Homo sapiens: one gene and its partner. The protein of the gene in region 2 interacts with the protein of the main gene of each other region in a biochemical or structural test. Each region holds a gene or a part of one and is shown on either strand. Other genes may lie near its edges.

The links.
Region 1: of the proteins of HDAC11 (region 2) and CDC25A, one has a biochemical effect on the other in vitro, tested with the Homo sapiens proteins (one study listed by BioGRID).

The regions. Positions count from the first base shown.
Region 1 is NC_000003.12:48,178,409-48,185,688, forward strand, and holds part of CDC25A (M-phase inducer phosphatase 1), read right to left. Parts: intron 6,288-7,280; coding exon 6,245-6,287; intron 5,429-6,244; coding exon 5,392-5,428; intron 4,623-5,391; coding exon 4,521-4,622; intron 3,389-4,520; exon of another isoform or gene 3,069-3,388; intron 2,433-3,068; coding exon 2,313-2,432; intron 1-2,312. UniProt on the Homo sapiens protein: Tyrosine protein phosphatase which functions as a dosage-dependent inducer of mitotic progression. Directly dephosphorylates CDK1 and stimulates its kinase activity. Also dephosphorylates CDK2 in complex with cyclin-E, in vitro.
Region 2 is NC_000003.12:13,504,242-13,507,132, reverse strand, and holds the end of HDAC11 (histone deacetylase 11), read right to left. Parts: coding exon 2,861-2,891; intron 2,666-2,860; coding exon 2,450-2,665; 3' UTR 717-2,449; downstream 1-716. UniProt on the Homo sapiens protein: Responsible for the deacetylation of lysine residues on the N-terminal part of the core histones (H2A, H2B, H3 and H4).

The DNA of each region.
Region 1 (7,280 bases), about 35 Mb from region 2:
ATATAACTCCAGTTCTGACAGGGGGGAATAAAGGGTAACTTCCTTCTATAAAATCTATCCTCGTTCTTTAGACTTGGGATTTAAATGCTCAGTTTTTAAACGAGGAATTACTGTGTGCCAGATACTACGATATAATCTTTATACATATAATCCAATAGAAGCCTCACAATACACTAAAGGTAGCTAATCCTTTCCTTTTTCTTTAGCAAATCAGGAAACTGGTGCTTAAGAGGTTACCAAGATTATACACCTCATCTGTTTGACTCCAAAATCCAAACTCTTCTCACCACACTATCTCCCTAGGAGAAAACCATTCCTGGAATTAAAATGGCGGTACCTCATTAGCCAACCTATAGTCATACTTTTTTTGGGAAACCTCTAAACATGGAATATAGAAAATTTAGAAAAACTGCTCATAAATCCACACCTGAAGATAAATCCTACCAATACAAACACTGCTAATACTGAATTATTTATTTTCTAGGCACTTTCAAATCCAGAAAAAAAAGTTTAGAGTTATTTTTTTCACAGTAGCAGGGTAGTCCCAATGTTATGACCTACAAGTAATCCTTAAAATCCAAATCTCTTTGGGGTATGAATCTGTTGTTAGTTAAGTGGCCCTCTGATTTTCTGAGTGGATCATGCACCAAGGAATCCTCTCTGCAGCTGGCCTATTCTGGTTCTGGCATTAGCTTTGCTTCACAATATAAAACAAGTTCTGAGCAGTCTCTAGTCCTCCCCAAGTGCACACTCTGGGAAATGGCAAATTTTTTTAGCCTAGGGGTAGATAACTTTATTATGGGGCAGTACCTTTATCACGAAAGCTCACACTATATCACACCAACATTTGTGAGGTATGTTCTGGGATTCCTAGGTGCAGATGTGATACAGGCTCTAGTCGCTAAGCACACACCAAATATATTGTTTCTGATACCCAACTCTTAAAGCATTACTGTGTACTTGGGAATTTAGAGATTGTTTATTGAGACAGGGATTCATTGTCCAGGCTGGAGTACAGTGGTCTGATCATAGCTCACTGCAGCCTCGAATTCTTGGGCTCAAGCAATCCTCCCACTTCAGCCTCCCGACTAATTGGGACTATAGGAACAAGCCACCACACTCAGCTTATTTTTTAACTTTGTACAGATAGGGTCTCACTATGTTACCCAGGCTGTCTTGAACTCCTGACCTCATGTGATCCTCCCACCTCGGCCTCCCAAAGTGCTGGGATTACAGCCATGAGCCACCACACCCAGCCAGAGATCATTAAATCCTGGTTTCCTACTTATGTATATCCTTTGGTAAATCATCCAAACCTCTCTAGTGGTACTTTCCTAATCTGTTCAAGTGGATTAACTCCACTTCACAAGACAAGAACATATAAAAGTGCTTTGTGCAAATGATAGACAGAGTAACAATACTGGCTGAACCTCAGAACACAAAGCAGATTGGAAAGGTATATTTTCAGATTTAAGATCCTAGGTAAACCTGGAAGCCAAATGTGGTCATCTTGCTCAAGTTGGGCCTCTCCAATCTATAGATGCTATCAGTTAATCCAATTCAGACCAACAGCAGGAAACTTTGGAAGTAATGACAGTCCCTGTCTGGCAAATACATAGCCCTGAAACGAGTGACCCCAAAACTGCCCAGCAGCCTGAGCATTCACTGTAATCCATAATAGTTCTTTAAAAAAATTAAAAATAAAAAAAATAGAGATGTGGTCTCACTATGCTGCCCAGGACTCAAGCGATCCTCCTGTCTCAGTTTTCCAAAGTGCTGAGATTATAGGCATGAGCCATGGCACCTGGCCCATAACTGTTCTTAACAAACCACCTTTGGAAGAAGTCAAGTGCTCTCTCTCCAGTTCCTTGAGAAGCACTTAGAATGCATAGTAAAGACCAAGTTTTAAGTAAGAGATCTAGTGTTACGGCTCTTTTAAAATTTGTCTCGCAGGCTTTCCGGTTTTTGCCAGAAAGCCCTTAAAAAAAAAAAAAGAAAAAAAGAAAAAAATAGGAAGAGATATAATCCCACCATACATACATTTAGGATGACCCAGGATTTCCCAGATTAACAAGGTCGATTATTCCTTGCACAACTCCAATATTTCAAACACCATCTCCCACTCTTACTACCGCCTGTCTGTTCTCCAGACACAGCAAAACCACCAAGAATGCTTGACAGTCTAATTTCAAAAGACAAAGTCAAGGTAAAAACAGCTAGTGCTACTGTAGTGCCTTCAATTCTGGATGAAAGAAGGTGTTTTAATCCTTTCTTCCTGTCAGGAATTCCCCTATGAAAGCCAGAGCACATACCATCCGAGCTGGGGCAGAGTTCTGCCTCTGTGTGAAGAGATCTTTACCCTCCTGGAGTCCATGAGAGTGCAGGCAGCCACGAGATACAGGTCTTACTGGCTTCTTAAACTCAAAGGCTTCCTGCAAGACATAGTTGAGACATCTACTGTCCATGAAAACCAACTCAGGCCTCAGCTTGGGTGAAAGAGGCAAGAAAGTGGGCACTGATCACCTTTCTGCCTCCAAATTAAAGTTTCACCTAATTCCAACAATAGATCTGCGTAACTAAGAATTTCCAAGGCTCTGTCAACAGCTAACTTCTAAAGTAACATCTTTTTCTTGTCATACTGTATTTCCTAACACAAGTATCTGCCAAATATACAAAACACGATGAATAAGCTAAATCACAAACTTTCTGAAATCTAAAGCAAAAATAAATAAAATCTAATATAATTGCCTGTGAATAGTTGTCAAAATTTTCCATCTAGGTCCATCTGTTTCAGGGCTTCATATTTTCCACCTCTTCCTACCAACTGGAGATAATTTTTTCTACTTATAATTATTCTATTCTATACTAAAAGCAATGAAAAAAAAAAAAGCCCTACTGGTTTACTCAACGTGGACGATTCTTACAAGCATAATGTTTTTTAAAGCCAGATATGATAGAATACATATCGTATGATTCCACTTTATGGAATGAAAACACTCACAGGTCCCTTGCCCTAAAATATTCACTTAAGAACTCATAATTAAGTATTAAAAGCAGTAATGGCTAGCACTGGCGTGGGTGGCTGAGTTCCCCGTTGCCCTTGGTCTCGGGGTCGCGGTCGGCACTGAGGCTGCAGCTATCATGGTGAACTTACTTCAGATTGTGCGGGACCACTGGGTTCATGTTCTTGTCCCTATGGGATTTGTCACTGGATGTTATTTAGACAGAAAGAGTGATGAACGGCTAACTACCTTCCGGAACAAGAGCATGTTATTTAAAAGGGTATTGCGACCCAATAAAGAAGTTACCTGGAAGTAAAGACTGGCTGAATTATAGAATGTTCACATTTTAAAGTTCTGAGAGAAATAAAACCATGAAGAATCAAAAAAAAAAAAAAAGCAGTAATGGCTAATATTACAGTGATTTCTATGCCAACACAGTACTAAGTACTTTCTGTGCATTAACTTTTTAACCATCAAATACAACCTGATTGTCCCGATTTTACAGGTGAGAAAACTAGACCTTGCAGGTTAAGGAATGTGCCCAAAATATTGAAGTAAAACAGGACAACTCCAGAGTGAGAGCTCTTTAACCACCATCTATGCTGTTTTCCCTTTAAAACAAAGCTCCAGGCAAGCAACCCTGAGAAGCTATTTCGGGGGAAAACCAGGCATCAGTACAGCTTTGCCCTGGTAAAAAGCACTAGAGGCTGATACACTGTTCCAAGCACTCAAGGCTGGAACTCATTTCCATATTCTTTCTCATGACACTTCCCAGGTTGATAAAGAAATCATCAGGAGAGTTCATGGAGGCAGTGGGTTTCACACTAAACCTGAAGATTGTAAGGACAAGGATTATGAACTGTGGCATTTCAGCAGGAATGGAAAAGGGGAGAAAGTAAATATATAGAAATACAGTAGAGAGAAGGCTGAAAAAATTACAACTGTTTTGGATGCCTACTCTGTGCAATGTCTAAAAGAACAAAAAAGCCAGGCTCATTCAGGGTAGATAACCAGAAATTCACCTTCCAAGCCACCATTTCAGTTACTCTGAGATTCCCTAGAACTTGTTGACCCCGTTCTTACAAATACTGCCAAAGAGCCTTTTCCTAAGCTTACAATTCATTTCAGGGTCAGAGCAAAGAGGCAAGGACAGCCTGGGCAGAGCCTTCCAGACAAACACTATTTGTACATGTAATTACTCCTGTGAGCTACAATCTGAGCAACTCCCGCCTGTCAGGCACCATTTTCAATACTTCATACATAATCTTACTTATTGCCACAACATCCCTAAAAGGTATTACTACTCCTATTTTACAAAAGAGCAAAGATTAAAAAGAGAAGAATTTGCCAACATCACACAGCTAGTAAGCAGGATCCAAACCCAGAATTCTCTGACTCCAAAGACCGCACATAATGGCCAAGTTTAGTCTCCCAGAAAGCAGCCCAGCCACTTCTAAGCCACTGACAGCCTGTGGGTTTCACCTCTGCCTCAGGTTAGTACATTGAAGTCACACTCACATTTTCCTTGTTCTCATCTGGGTCGATGAGCTGAAAGATGTCATGGTCAAGAGAATCAGAATGGCTCCTCTTCAGAGCTGGACTACATCCCAACAGCTTCTGCTATCAAAGTAAAAAAGGAAAATAATTAAGGCACACAAATAAAATTTCAGTGGAAAATTCAGTTCTCAAAAGAAAAAAAAGGGGGGTTGAATAGGGGGTAGACTAGCTCCTCACACACTGCAGTAGGTAACCAGTAAATGTGGCCAGGAATCCACCTTGCCAGGACACAGCCAGGACACAGCATAGAAGTTTCCATTCCATGGGTTTACAGCTAACCTCACAAGGTCTACAGTGCCCCCCTCAACAGGGATTACAGTGCCAAATCAATCCCCAAATAACATTTGCATCAAAAGAACCCTTCCTGGTTTAATAAAGCTCTGTTAGAGATGGAGGACAAATTCCTCCAGACCGAACATCTTGAGTACTTATGAGACTAAGGAAAGGCTGGGAATAGTGGCTCTTGCCTATAATCCTAGCACTTTGGGAGGCCGAGGCAGGAGTTTGAAACCAGCCTGGGCAACAGAGTGAGACCCCCATGTCTACAAAAAATACAAAAATCAGCCGGGTGTGATGGTGTGCACCTATATATAGTCCCAGCTCCTCTGGAAGTTGAGGTGGGAGGATCACTTGAGCCAGGGAAGCAGAGGTTGCAGTGAGCCAAGATTTTGCCACTGCACTCCAGCCTGGGTGACAGAGCAAGACCTTGTCTCAAAAGAGACTAAAGAAAAGCAGTTTTTACTCTCTAAATTAAGTCTCCTATCAAGGTCATGCTGGTAGCTAAGGAACAGATAACAGGTATTAGCTCAAAATAAACAAGGAACTAACTTACAGGTAGGGAATGTATTCTTCTCATAGGATTTTCAAGGCTGTAATGAGATCAGAAGGTAAATAATGAGAATAAAACAAGTAAAGAGGTATTCATATTAGCAGAGAGATAGTGTTTAGCCTGTAGCTTGGGGGTACAGTCACAGACTCCCATTTTAGGCAAGAGATGGGAGAATAAATTTCTGAAGCTGTCCTGTTCTCAGGAGCACCCCCAACACTAGACTTCTAGGTGAAAAAAAACAAACCCATGTCTTTTCTTAAAATACACACATTCGGCTGGGCGCGGTGGCTCACACATGTAATCCCAGCACTATGGGCACTATGGGAGGCCGAGGAGGGTATATCACGAGGTCAGGAGTCTCGAACTCCTGGCCTGGCCAACACGATGAAACCTCGTGTCTACTAAAAATACAAAAATTAACCGGGTGTGGTGGTGCACTCCTGTAGTCCCAGCTACTCGGGAGGCTGAGGCAGGAGAATCAGTTGAACCTGGGAGGTGGAGGTTGCAGTGAGCCACTGCACTCTAGCCTGGGCGGCAGAGTGAGACTCTGCCTCAGAAACAAACAAACAAACAAACAAAAAAACCCCACATGTTCTTGTAAGGCTATGATGTCAGAGCACAGAGTAAGGGTTTGGGTAAGACCCAAACAGAACACCAAAATTATAGCTAAAATAAAGGAGAAAAAGTTCTGAAAATTGCTGACACAAACTATTCATTCTTGAGATTCCAGAGTGTTTCTAGGCACAGGTAAATCCAGGGCTCCAGTCCAGTGTATGAAGAACTTCATTTAAATAAGGTATTTAAGTTTAGACACGTTTTTTCTACATATAAACATTTGAAAGCAGTGAATACATACTTTTCTTTACTGTCCAATGGCCCAGGAGAATCTAGACAGAAACCTATGGGGAAAAAAAAAACCTCTCAAGAAATAATACAAAAAACACCATTTTGTCATTAAAATTAAAACACTAAACAAAGTACCTGGGTCTTTATTTAAGTCAGGCAACAAATATTCATGGCTTGTACTTTTGCCAGAATTGATGTTACGTCTATTAGATTGTCAAAAATGTCATGTTTGTACAAGTCTTAATATTTTCATAGCGTATTTACTGTTTTTTCTCCTATTTGCAAATAACATCAAGGGAAATAGGATTTGAGAAGAGGGTGAATAAAACTGATTCATATCATGATTGTTTGGTTATTCAGATAGAGGTGACCCAGATAACTTTCTGTGAGTTCCAACCATAGAAACAATAGGTACCAGATTTTCTTGGCATAGTTTTTAAACGTTTTACCTTGTCAAATCATATGAGGCTTGAAAAATACAACTACTGACCAGGCACAGTGGCTCACACCTGTGATTCCAATACTTTGGGAGGCTGAGGCAGGCTGATGGCTTGAGGCCACAAGTTCAAAACAAGCCTGGGGCAACATAGTGAGACTTGACTCTACCAAAGTTAAAAAAAAAATTAGTTGGGTGTGGTGGCACGTGTCTGTAGTCCCAGCTACTTGGGGAGGCTGGAGTGGGAGGTTCGCTTGAGCTCGGAAAGTTGAAGCTACAGTGAACCCTGATTGTGCCACTGTACACCAGCCTGAGACCTGGAAAACAGAGCAAGACCCTGTCTCAAAAAAAAAAAAAAAAAAAGGCCAGGTGCAGTAGCTCACCCCTGTAATCTCAGCACTTTGGGAGGTCGAAGTGGGTGGATCACCTGAGATCAGAAGTTTGAGACCCACACCTGTAATTCCAGCTACTAGGGAAGCTGAGGCAGAAGAATTCTCTAAATCTGGGAGGCAGAGTTGCCTGGGTGACAGAGTTGAGACCTTGTCTCAAAATGAAAAAGAAAAATACAACTACTGGTCATGACATGCAAGGCAAGCACTTGCTGCCTTTA
Region 2 (2,891 bases):
GTGCCATGAAGTTCCATATGCAGTTCCCAGCTAGAGTCTGGATAGGGCCTGGCCCTTAGTACCACCTGGTCAGCATCAGCCTTTATCAGTCTCCTCCCACCCAGCACAGGGCCAATCGGGACCCCTGCCTGCTACCCCATGTCCTTTTCCCTGACACCCTGTCTGAACCTCAAGGGGCCACCCTGCCCCCCATCCAGGCTGTGCCACTGATACTGGGGATGCTCTGGTCACTCTGCCCGGCCAAGGCTCTGCCTTTCCCCCTGCCTGGATACCCCACCCCAGCCCAGCCTCATCTCGGGGCAGCCCATCCCCATAAGCGCTCCAAAAGCACCCCAGGCCTGGAAGACACCCCATCCACCCACTGCCCTGCCAGGGCCCCCTCCCACTGTGCAGCAGAGCCACCATCACAGCCCAGCTGTGCCTGCCCACCCATTCCCAGGCTGTCCCAGACCCCAGCCCAGTGACCTTATCACCCTGGGATCCTAGACCCTTCTCTGTCCAGAGTAACCCCCCACCCCCACCCCACCCCCCTGCCAAGTGTGAGGCAGCTGAGAACTTTTACTTTGGGATCTGGCAGAGCTGGATTCAAGCCTGGCTCTACCACTGTTGAGATCTGCTGGGAGGTGTGGCCTGGGGCAAATTTCTCACCCCTGCCAAGCCTCAGTTTCCTCATCTGTGAAATGGGAATCATTACCAACTCCACAGGACTCAGAAGATGAAATAACACACTAGCATTTATTGAGCAGCTACCCATGTCAGGCCTTGCGCTACAAGAACTTTCCATTTTCATTTCCTTTCACCCCTAGGAGGTAGGGATTCTTTGCCTCCAGCACACACAGCAGCCTGGGCCAATCAAGCCTCTAGGATTCTCTAGGAACAGAAGCTCAACAGTGACAAACCATGTCTGTGGCTGAGCCCCAGAAGTCGCTGGCCTGTGTTGGGTGTGAATGGATGTTAGGTGCCTCGAGTCAGCGACAGAGACCAACGGCAAGGGTAGGGATCTCAGAGTGCATTGTTAGAGCCTCGGGGTCTGGTCCAGGAGGCCAGCATTGTTGACATTTTGTGATCTTGGAACCCTTCTCCCTGCAGCAGAGGGAGCATTAGGGAGGCCGGGAGACAGTGGGAGCACCCCCTCACTGTAATGAACACAAGTCCCGTAGGGGGCTGATGGAGCAGGGCCACCTCAATGGACCCACTTTCCCTCCCCAGCCCCTGATTTGATCAGGGCCACAGCTGCCGGCTAGCAGGGGTGGATGCTCCCCCGCCCACTTCCTGGAGGTCCCTGAATGTCCCCATGAGTAGGGCTGAGGAACAGGCCAGAGGTCTGGCCCACCTGGGGCCCCTGGGCATGGAGAAGGATTGGGGCCCAGGCACTTTGGTGAGGCCAGTGGAGGCCACAGTCCCACCCAGGGCCCTGCCCCGGCTACCTATGTTCATAATCCCCAGGCCAGGATAGAGATCCTCGCTGCCCTCTCTCCAGGAACCCCTGCCCCGCCTCACCAGTGTCTGGGTCCCTCCCTGGGCCTGGGTTCCTGCAGGACCTGGCTTGGGCACCACCCTGCATCCCTGATTTCCACCTGTGAGCCTGGCCTGCCCACGTCCCCCACCCTTCTTCTGCCCTCTCCCCACCTGGGTCAGCGGCCCCCTGGAGGCGACAGGGCTGAGGCCCGTCCTTGCGCTAAGAATTCCTCCCCCCAAAACCTGCCCCTTGCACTGAACAGGCAAGACTACTGCTAAGGCAGTGATCTGGGCGCCGCAGGCCTTCCCCACCTTCACCCCCACAGAAGGGCCTGGGAAGGCAGGTCCAGACCTTGCTTTATTGAGGGGGAACTCCAGATGAGGGAACCCACCTGTACCCCTTCCTGACCGCCCCTCACATCCAGGCCCAGGGTTCCCACCTGCTGCCTGGGAACCAGGCCCACCTGGAGACCTAGCTCCAGCACCTCCTGGGCCATCCACACCAGTGCCTATAGCTCTTCAGCTCTGGGGCAAAGAGGGCAGCAAATCCCATGACCAAGGGGAGGGAGGGAGGCCCAGTTAGGATGCAGGCCTAGTCAGGATGGAGGTGGAAGCTTCCTCACTCCGACCTGGGTCTGCCGTTCTCAAAACCAGAACACCCCAAGCCCAGGGCCCTCGCTGTGCCTGGGACCTAGCCTGTCCTCTCCAATTCTCAGTTAACTGCCTGCCTCCCTGGACCTATGGGCTGGTGACTTCGTGTGGGTCCCCCTGGGACACAGGCTCTGCCTTCTGCCCCCACCCATAGAGGCCTCAAGCCCTTCTGGCTTCCAGCAGGGAAAAGTAGAGGAAGGGCCAGCTCCAGGCCCCAGCCAGGGATGGCCCTGCCCCTCCATGCTCACTGAAGGCTGCCTCCACCACCCCATGAGGTTAGAAAACAAAAAGCACTAAGGGGCGGATAGGCAGGGCCACGTGACAGGCAGGGCAGCAAGGGTCAGGGCACTGCAGGGGGAAGCAGCGGTGTGTCTGAGTTCTGTGCGGAGACGCTGGGTGACTCAGGCCCAATGAGCCCCAGGCCAAACAGATTAAGTATGGAGTCAGCAATGATGCGGGCTGTGCGCTTCTGGTACCCGCCTGAGGTCACCATAAGGATGGGCACCCGGCGGCCACGGACCATCCGGAACACCAGCTCATCCCGCTTCACGATGCCCTGTTAGGGGAAGAGGAGGGTGACTCAGGCAGGCCAGACCCCCATGGTGTCAGGAAGTCCTGCTGCAGGGCTAGCCCTGCTCCAAACTGCTGTTGCTTCAGTCCATCTCCTCCCTGACATGAGGCCGCCCACCTTTCCTGCTGCTGCTGAGTCCATAGAGCAGACCCTCCCGTGGCCCCAAGGGTCAGGACGTACCGCTGGGCTGATGGACAGCCCCCCAAGGCGG